3 linked regions of the Homo sapiens genome follow. The protein of the gene in region 2 purifies or fractionates together with the protein of the main gene of each other region. This does not show direct contact. Each region holds a gene or a part of one and is shown on either strand. Other genes may lie near its edges. The genes, in order: IL37, AMTN and CLCC1.

Region 1 (2,766 bases), on a different chromosome or scaffold from region 2:
AGGAAGAGTTTGTGCCTGGGAACCTTCCAGGTGCCTCTTCTGACCATAGCCAAGAGACTGGAGACACAGACCTCCTCCCAGCACTGAGGACAAACAGCCATGGGGCCAGTGGGGGTGCAGGGACACCCACACCACTAAGGGCTCAGGGCGGCGCCTTCAGAGCCTGAACCTTCCTCTCATGCTGCCATTTGAACACCACAACACCCTAATAGGAAACTGTTAACATTGCCACTGTTCAGGTGTGGAAACCGAGACAGACAGTGGAGATTCCCTGCCCTAGGTGACACAGGTAATAAGTGACAGATGTGGAAATTTAAAGGTACTATAACGTCTGTCTGCCTGACTCAGGCTTAAGGCTCCCATCACCTCCTCTTCTCAGGACAGAGTCAGGAGGCCTCAGCCTGAGCCCCAGCTCTAGTGCAGGTTCATGTGGGAATACTGAGCCTCACTAGTACAATGGCAGAGAGGACCAAATGGGACCAGGTGTGTAAGGGTGCCTGGCACAGTTGGGGGAGGCTGCTGTCACTTCTCCACCGCTGCTGCTGCAGTTACCTTTGATGTTTTAGTTTTGTTGTAGTTACACCATTGCTGGCTTTGGATCTGCACTGTGTCCACTCCAGGTGGAACCACGCACACAAGCCTCTCTGTCGGGCCTGTCCTGACTTCTCCTTGTCAGGGCTGGGATCTCCTTCAAATCTGGCGGAAGTGGTTCTCCAAGTCTGGTCCTCAAACGTCAGCAGCATCAGCGCCTAGAAGTGTTAGGAATACACATTCCCAGGCCCCACCACAGACCTCCTGCCTCAGAAACTCAGGGCGCTGAGGCTCTAGGGGCTGCTTTAACAAGACTTCCAGGTTATCGTGACGCACCTTGAAAGTCTGAGAGCTACTGCCCTACAGAAAGTTACTAGTGCCCTAAAGCTGGCGCTGGCACTGATGTTACTGCTGCTGTTGGAGTACAACTTCCCTATAGAAAACAACTGCCAGCACCTTAAGACCACTCACACCTTCAGAGTGGCCTTGAGAAAGATTTGGGGTCAAGGATCATGAGCGAGAACACCACTTAAGAGGATAGTGAACTAGTCTGCATGTGAGACGCTGAGATCCTATGTCAGGCTGTGATAGGAGGGAAACAGAAACCAAAGGAAAGAACAGCTTTAAGAAGCGCTTAAGAGGTACAAAGTAAAATGATGGTGCTAGAAAAGTAGCTTCTTAAAAAGAGCATTTTCCAGTCTCACCCTGGACTAACTGAATGAGAATCTCAGGAGTGTGAGGCCCAGGTATCCATGGTCTTAAAATGCCACCCACCAGGTGATTCCCAGTGTGCACCAGGGGTGAGAGTCACAGCCTTAGGCCATGCCACTCAAAGGGTGTCTTCAGACCAGCAGCACCCACAGCTCTGGGAGTGCATCAGAAAGACAGAGGCTTGGCACCACCCACACCTACTGAACCATAGTTTGCAGGTGATTTCTTGCACATTAAAGTGTGGGAAATGGAAAAGCTTAGAGTTCAGCTAGCTCGGTGACTCTCAGTCAACCTGCACCTGCTCCATGAACTCAGACTGCCTGGGATGGGCCCAGAAAAGCTCCTGAGGAGATTCTGATGTAAGGCAGGGCTGATAACCATGGATCTCATCTGACCCCATATCACTGGGGAGTTACTTAGGATCTTGCCTGGGGCCAGTCATCTCTTCCATAGACACTGAGAGTGTCCACGATGCTTGGGGCACTACAGGGTGGGAGGTGGAGGATCACGGGTGAGTCAGATAGGAAGCCTGCTCCTGGGGAGCTTACAGTGCTATAGGGCAGCGAGCCAAGGATGCCAATACCTGTGTGCAGGTACCACTGACGAGTGCAGAGCGCTGCAGCACCAGAGAGGAAGCTACCCTGTGCAGAGGGGGCTGAGGAGGGCTGCAGGGAGATGACAGGAAAGCCGGTGTTACAGGAGGAGTCCTCCCCACTCTTTGGGCATGAGGAGACCAGGAGGACATTCTACAGTGAGAAACCCAGGCAGAGGCCATGTGCTTATGGCATGGGAAAAGAATGACACCTTAGACTTATTCTCTACATTAGAATTGCCTACCACAGATACCCATATTATAGCTTCACATAGTGTGGTGGTTACTGTGTTTTCATATTGTCACATTTGCCATTTTCCAGCCACCCACCCATTCTTGACAGTCACTGGCCCAGCCTGGGGGCCCCTGTTCTTTATCAAACAAGTGCCTGAGCTCTTTGCAGAGGTGAGGGTCACCTGTCCAATCAGAGGCCAGGAGGGAACGTTCCCTTTTAAGACCCTACTCTAGGCAGGCCTGGCCCAAATGAGTTGCTAGGAGCCCACGCCCTAAGAACCCTCTGAGCACTGTTGTGGCTGGTCCTGCTGCTAGAAGTTGTTCCTCCAGGGCCAGGTGCAAGATTTGTGGCTTTTCAAAGGAGCCACTAAAGCTCCAGCTCAGCCTTGCACCGTGCTGGGCTCCTGGGGGCTTCCTGCCTCCAACCCTCCCAACTCTTCCATCACCGCTCCCTTAGCCTGGCCAGTGCAGGGATCTGTTCCACTCTAGGCACTGCTGAGGGAATGATGCCTCCAGTCAGAGGGTGCAAAAAAGAGAGTTAAGAAAAACAATGATTATAAAAAGTCCTTTTTATACGCCAGACATTTTCTTTGCTCAGGCTAAGTGCTACTTATTTGAGTAAGCATTTTAGTTCTCATAACTCCTCTCTCAAGTAGGTGCTGCTATTACTTTCATTTCACAGATGAGGACATTGAGGT
Region 2 (3,657 bases):
CAGAGACTGAGAAAAGAAGCAACAAGATTAGACCATCATTTTCACAGGGTCACTCTGGCTACTATACTAACAATAGATTGTGGGAGATGAAAAGACTTACTTACAAAATTTATATATATTATATATATGTATTTTATGTATATATATGTATATATAATCTTAAAGCTGAAAGGGACCTCCTAGAACAGATAATACCAACCTCTCTTTTTTTTTTTTTTTTTTTTTTTTTTTTTTTTTTTTGTGAGACAGAGTCTCACTCTGCAACCTCTGGCTCCCGGGTTCAAGTGATTCTCCTTCCTCAACCTCCCGAGTAGCTGGGACTATAAGCGTGCACCACCATGCTCAGCTAATTTTTATATTTTTAGTAAAGACAGAGTTTCATCATGTTAGCCAGGCTGGTCCTGAACTCCTGACCTCAAGTGGTCCGCCCGCCTTGGCCTCCCAAAGTGCTGGGATTACACGGTGGCATGAGCCACCGTGCCCAGCCCCAACCTCTCCTCATAACTAAGGGGGAAATTCCAGCGTGAAACCAAAACTGCTCCAGGGTAACCTTAGATGACTCAAGGGCTGGTGCAGAGCCAGAGGGCCACACCCCTGTGCCTTCCAGGATGCCTCCAGGAGCAAAAGCAGATTTGGTCAACCTGGCAAAAGAGAAGTTTTTTTTTCGGAGACTAAGAGCACTTAGAGGGATCTAGCACTGGCTCTGCTGCTCACCATGTCACCTTGGGCAAGTTACTGTAAGCATCAGTTGCCTCATCTATTAGAAAAAAATAATACAACTAGACCAAATGTGTAGGAGGAATATTTTCATATCTAAAAATTCAGTGATTTTTAATACACTAATAAAATATCCAGGCCAGGAAGAAAAACTGAACTTCTGTTACAAGACCGATGTGGCAGGCATGGCAATAGTGGGAAGCTTCATGAAAAGGTAGTAAGAATGACGGCAGCTTACCTCAAGCCCTGAGAAAAAGCAAATGTGCACAGAGCTAAGGTACAGATTATATATTCATGTCCTGGCAAAAGAGAAAGAAAGGTACAGAAAAGAAATGGGAGCCAGGAACCACCACAAGACATCCCATCTGCTTGGGTTCATCCCAGCCCCCTTCCCTCCACACCATCCCACCCCTCCTGGGCTGGCATTTTTCCACTCTACATGTCCTACCATGCACATAATGTTTCAGGGAATCAAACTCCTCTAAAATACACAAAGCCTAAAAGATAGACATGTTTGCATTGGTGGCAACCTGGATATAAATGGACACAAAATCTTAAACACATTCCTGCCTCATCAAATATGTATTTGTTTTCACAAAAGCAGCTCAAACCTGCTTTGGGACTCCCTCCCACAAAACTGGCTCCGGATCAGGGAACACTACCAAACCAACAGCAGTCAAATCAGGTAAGAGTCCTACAATATGGAACATGTACAAACCGGTAAAGAAAATACGGAACATGTACAAACCGGTAAAGAAAACACGTTAAGACTGGTAGGTTTAAAATCAAAATTTACATGAAGACTGTACAAGACTGAACAAGAGAGAGGCTTTTCGTTTGGGAGTGGGGAAAAGAACCGATATAATTTTCTGAAAAATTTGAATAGGAAAAGTAAAGTACTCTAATTCTTTTTCCTTTTATCTGAATAATAATTTGGTTTAGCAGTGAAATCTAGTCAACTTTGAAAAGGAATACCTACGTCTGTTTACAAAGCTTGGTCATCTATGGACTTGAGGTACTGTGGCATTATCATATGCAGTATTTGCCAGCAATAGCAGGGAATCAGAGATGATCTATAAAAAATAACTGCAGATTTCCTCCTGGCTTTGTAAAGTTTCATTGTTGCTGATGTGTTGATGTGTTGCTGTTCAATCTGTTTCTTCAAAGCGTATTTAAATACTTTTGAAAACTGCATTATCTTTTGGCTACTGCCCTCCCTCCCACTTCAACTCTTCCTCTGCTGTGAAGGGCCATGGCTTACCTACTTCTACATTTTGTGAAGTAATATAATCAGATAACACTAGAGTCTAAAGTCTTCTCCTCAGTCAACAGAACACTCAAGTCAAGACCCATTCTCCCCGCTTAAGGAATCTGAATCTTATACAATTTGGGAACCTTCTTTAAGAAAAAGAATACAAAATTCGATATGTAAAATTAAGTACTGAAATAAATATTTATAATGTGATAAGAAATAACAGTAAATCACAAATTTTCTTAAGCTGATAAGTACCGTAAGCTTGAGACATTGCTAGGGCACCTCCCAGGGCCACAAAGGGAGCAATGCTAGTGAGAGGCCCCGAGGCTTCATCTTTATTTACCTTCATGGTAAACCCACCTCTGACAGGACTGTCAATTACATGAGGATATCCACCACTGACAGAGTAAGGGAAGCAGACAACCTCTTGTCTCATACATCACTTTCAATCCCCTGCAGGTCTTTCCTTCTTTAAGTCTGATACCATTAACACAGATGCTCACACTGGGGCCAGATCTGCATCTGGTAAGTGATTGTTTATATTATTTTAATACCCATTGTGAAATAAATATAATGCCTAATATTACAGTGGGGGGAGCATGTATATGGGTGCGTATATCCACAAATGAAAACACACATATACTTATTCACATAGATAAGTTGAAAGAGAGGAGAGAAGAGTCCAAGAGAGTTGGACATCATTAAACGTTTTTCTTAGCAAGAGAGTCTCTAAACAAATTAATCTAATTCTTTCCTTCTCCAGTTTCTCTAACCTCTTCTCCTCCTCTCTCCATTCCTCCACCATACCTTCTTTAATGCCCCTACAGCATCCACACATCCACATAAACACTATCACTGCTATTATCACCCACAATGACAGGAGCAAACTGGAAGAGACAAAGATCTTCAGTGTCTTCTTATAGAATATCTGTATAGATCTTCAGCCCTCTCATAGAATATCTGTGTAATCTGTTTGAGAAGAACAATAAGTTTCTTTCCTGAGTTAAAGTGGATTTTTTTAGTGGTCAAATTTAAATATAGCTCATGTTCCAGACAAAATATGTAGTCTGAACCTCATAATTTTCACGCATAACCTAGAGGAGTTAATTTCTTAATTGTAAAAAAGCTATCAGAAAATTTTCAGGAAGAATTGCTCTTGTAGCCAAAAGGGGAAAGCAAAGATAAAAATAAATCACTTAAGTAATTCTCAAACAGAATAGGTTAAATGCCAAAGAAAAACTTAACAGGGGAAAAGTTAGCAATAGCCCTTGTAGTCGTACAAGCAGACTAAATAAGTCTTTAAATTTCATCTTTGTGTCTAAGTATACATGCAATAGAACACTATGTATTTACATAGCAACTCCTTCCTTTAAATATATTTTACGTTTAGTAAAAACATTTTAGTTTCCTAAATGTCCAAACTGAAAAAAAATACAATGAAAGTCTTCTTCCTTGCCCTACAGTTAAATCCTGCTGCAGGAATGACACCTGGTACCCAGACCCACCCATTGACCCTGGGAGGGTTGAATGTACAACAGCAACTGCACCCACATGTAAGTTGAACAGCTGGACCTTAGTTTTAACATTAGAGAGCATTTTCTCTCAGGTGAAAGCCTACAGTAGAAATTTTTTAAAGCTTCTTGAAAATTTTGCCCAGATTATTAACTGACGAATGTTCTGCTGAA
Region 3 (3,657 bases), on a different chromosome or scaffold from region 2:
TCTTTTTTTTTTCTTCCTTGTTTTTGAGACAGACCTCACTCTGTGGTCCAGGCTGGAGTGCAGCAGCGCAATCTTGGCTCACTGCAACCTCTCAGGTTCAAGCAATTCTCCTGCCTCAGCCTGCTGAGTAGCTGGGACTACAGGTGCACGTCACCAGGCCCAGCTAATTTTTGTATTTTTAGTAGAGACAGGGTTTCACCATGTTGGCCAGGCTAGTCTTGACCTCCTGACCAAGTGATCTGCCCACCTCAGCCTCCCAAAATGCTGGGATTACAGGCATGAGCCACCACACCCAACCCACCTGGCTTTATTCTGACTTAGATGCCCAAATGTTAACATTAACTGGGTTATGAAAATTAGGACTGAACTTTTTTACCCACTAACTGGTCAAGGAATCAAAAAACTGTCAGCTAAGAAGTGTCCATTTAATTCCTCTCCAGCGTGGGCCACCTCTAATCACTGCCTCCAACCCACATCCAAGGCAAGATTGCTCTCAATGGATTAGAGTCTTCTTTCATTGTGAATAAATGTGTTAAAATTGTAAAACCCTCCATCCATATAATACCTTATATAAATACATCCAATTCCATCCCAAACTGAACAGAAAGCTGATGATTAAAACACGTCTCAACTGAGTGTACCAACGTACATATGTCCACAGCTCAGTAGCCACTAAAACCACGATGCAGAGCAGACAAAGAAGTACCTTAAAACAGAGAGAAGCAGAAATCAGCCACCAAAAACACTTAAGACAGCTAAAAAGAACTGGACTCAAAAGCACAAAATCATTTCTACAATTTTGTGGCTTGTTCATCAATACGGTATAAGTGACCTAGTACAGGTTCTTAACGTAATTATGGTGGAGTTTGGAAAGTATTTTAAAAAGGAAACTTAATGACGTTGCCCTTGCCCTCATCCCATCTTACCATTAACACATTATATGGATCCACTCCAAAGGAATCTTCGAATCGCCACTTCCATGTTTCAAAATCATGAAACTTAAAATTAATTAAAATATCACTTAGTGCATCATCCAAGGCACCTGGTTTCCAGTCTTCTCCATTGAGAAACTTCTGTATTTCTAACAAAGTTTCTCTTTTAAGGATAATCTCAGCATCATAATGCATATCGCCTTTGTTTTCATCAGGCTAAATTAAATTTACCAAAAAACAAACAATAGAAAGAGAATTTTATTACTACTTGGTGAACCATTTTAAGACAAAAGCCAATTTGGAACTAAATATTAGTTTGCAGTATTTCATATGTATAAGAATAATAGCCTGGGCAAGGTAGCTCACACCTATAATCCTAGTGCTTTGACAGGCCAAGGTGGGAGGATAGCTTGAAGCCAGGACTTCAAGACCAGCCTGGGCAACAAAGCGAGACCCCATCTCTACAAAAAATTCTAACCATTAGCTGTGTGCAGTGGTGTGCACCTGGCTCCTGCCTACTCAGCAGGCTGAGGCAGAAGAATTGTCTGTGCCCCGGATTCGAGGCTGCAGTAAGCTATGAGCATACCACTGCACTCCAGCATGGGAGACAGAGTAAGACCCTGTCTCTAAAAAAAAAAAATAATAATAATATCCACCTGTCTTCACAGGCCAACATGAAAACCAAAGATAATATACATGAAAAACATTTAAAAATTCTAGAACTCTATGTAAAAAAGATACTGTAAATTTCACTAAAATACAGTTGATTCTTGCTATTCGCAGTAGTTATCGTCTTTTTTTTTTTTTAGATGGAGTCTCACTCTGTCGCCCAGGCTGGAGTGCAGTGACGCAATCTCTGCTCACTGCAAGCTCCACCTCCTGGGTTCACGCCATTCTCCTGCCTCAGCCTCCCATGTAGCTGGGACTACAGGTGCCCGCCACTACGCCTGGCTAATTTTTTCTATTTTTAGTAGAGACGGGGTTTCACCGCATTAGCCAGGATGGTCTCGATCTCCTGACCTCATGATCCGCCCGCCATGGCCTCCCAAAGTGCTGGGATTACAGGCGTGAGCCACTGCACCCGGCCTCACAGTAGTTATCTTCTATAAAGTCACCTCAAACACCAATTAGCAAGTACTGAACCATTACTCCTATAATAAATACAGGGTTTGGTTCGTGCAAACCTGTCATAACATTTTTATCAATTGATCAATATATAACCTTGTTTTATGTGTGTTTCTGTACATTCCTGTTTAAGGACACCTTATTTAAAATACATATTGTTCATTCACTAACACTGAACACATGGACAACTGTCCTATACCTTACGCTTGACTGAAGCCTATCTAATACACACCTTTTCCTTTTCTCTGTAAGTACATCGTGGCCTTCTTGCACTTAGAAACACTAGACCTCAGCTCAGCACTACATCAGAGGGCCGTTTTAAACAACGAAATGATGCTGTTTAATGATTGGTCTCAAAATAAAAATAAAAAAAATCACCCCTCTCCCCTCAAAAAAGCACGAAAAAATATACCACTAAATAGACCACAAAAAAAGACACTTGTTTGCAGTACGAGAGCTGAAACAAGAAAACAGTTTTGATTGCCTTGTTCCATCTCAGCTGGGAATGCCTGCAACAGGCAACCCAAATTTTTTACCACTCTTCACTGTGTCCCAGAGTAACCACAGAACACCTCGATTATTGACTTTGGGGTTACACAGACTTAATGAGGTCAATTCATAAATACGGAATCTGTGAAGAATGAGGATCAACTGTGCATCTTCATTTTATGATTCACTGCATGACTTTTCATTTCCTGACAGTTTTCAGATAGCCTAAAATCTGTATTAGTGCAAACAAGAAAAACAAGAAGGATCTCAAAGAGCAACAAAATAATGGGTTTCCATAAATTACATATTTATAACTACCTTTATTAGTGTGAGTTCAGCTTAGCAAAATCACTAAACAAATTTTGCATTAATTAGCCAGTTGATACAAATAAAATTCCTTTTTCTTTTATAAACAGTAAATACAAGGTGGGACATGGTGGCTCACACCTGTAATCCCAGCACTTTGGGAGGCCGAGGCGGTCAGATCACTTGAGGTCAGGAGTTTGAGACCAGCCTGGCTAACATGGTGAAATCCTGTCTCTACTGAAAACACAAAAATATTAGCCAGACGTGGCCGGGCGCGGTGGCTCATGCCTATAATCCCAGCACTTTGGGAGGCATGAGGCAGGCGGATCACGAGGTCAGGAGATCAAGACCATCCTGGCTAACACGGTGAAACCCTGTCTCTACTGAAAATACAAAAAATTAGCCGGGCATGGTGGCGGGTGCCTGTAGTCCCAGCTACTCAGGAGGCTGAGGCAGGAGAATGGTGTAAACCTGGGAGGCGGAGCTTGCAGTGAGCGGAGATTGCGCCACTGCACTCCAGCCTGGGTGACAGAGCAAGACTCTGTCTCAAAAAAAAAAAAAAATCAGAAACTAAATATTTTCCAGCATTTCCATCTTAAGTATTTTTGGTTCCATCTGTTTCCTTATCTAGGTTCTGTTCCACCCTGTACGTAGCTGTAAGGCTCAAATTACAGAGTGTACGTATGAGAACGCATCTGCTTCTACATTTCCAGAATAAGGTGGCGTTATTCATCTAACACTCCTTTTTCTTTTGGTCACTTCTTACTGTACCAGGAAGATGGAGTATATGGCAAGTTTTGCCAGC

What was found.
Region 1: the proteins of AMTN (region 2) and IL37 purify together in Homo sapiens (affinity purification with mass spectrometry; one large-scale study listed by BioGRID and IntAct). This does not show direct contact.
Region 3: the proteins of AMTN (region 2) and CLCC1 purify together in Homo sapiens (affinity purification with mass spectrometry; one large-scale study listed by BioGRID and IntAct). This does not show direct contact.

What each region holds. Positions count from the first base shown.
Region 1 is NC_000002.12:112,914,088-112,916,853, forward strand, and holds part of IL37 (interleukin-37), read left to right. Parts: intron 1-1,105; coding exon of another isoform or gene 1,106-1,172; intron 1,173-2,766. UniProt on the Homo sapiens protein: Immune regulatory cytokine that acts as a suppressor of innate inflammatory and immune responses involved in curbing excessive inflammation.
Region 2 is NC_000004.12:70,521,437-70,525,093, forward strand, and holds part of AMTN (amelotin isoform 1 precursor), read left to right. Parts: intron 1-1,318; coding exon 1,319-1,402; intron 1,403-2,431; coding exon 2,432-2,497; intron 2,498-3,435; coding exon 3,436-3,525; intron 3,526-3,657. UniProt on the Homo sapiens protein: Is a promoter of calcium phosphate mineralization, playing a critical role in the formation of the compact, mineralized, aprismatic enamel surface layer during the maturation stage of amelogenesis.
Region 3 is NC_000001.11:108,942,910-108,946,566, forward strand, and holds part of CLCC1 (chloride channel CLIC-like protein 1 isoform 1 precursor), read right to left. Parts: intron 1,149-3,657; coding exon 927-1,148; intron 707-926; coding exon 566-706; intron 1-565. UniProt on the Homo sapiens protein: Anion-selective channel with Ca(2+)-dependent and voltage-independent gating. Permeable to small monovalent anions with selectivity for bromide > chloride > nitrate > fluoride.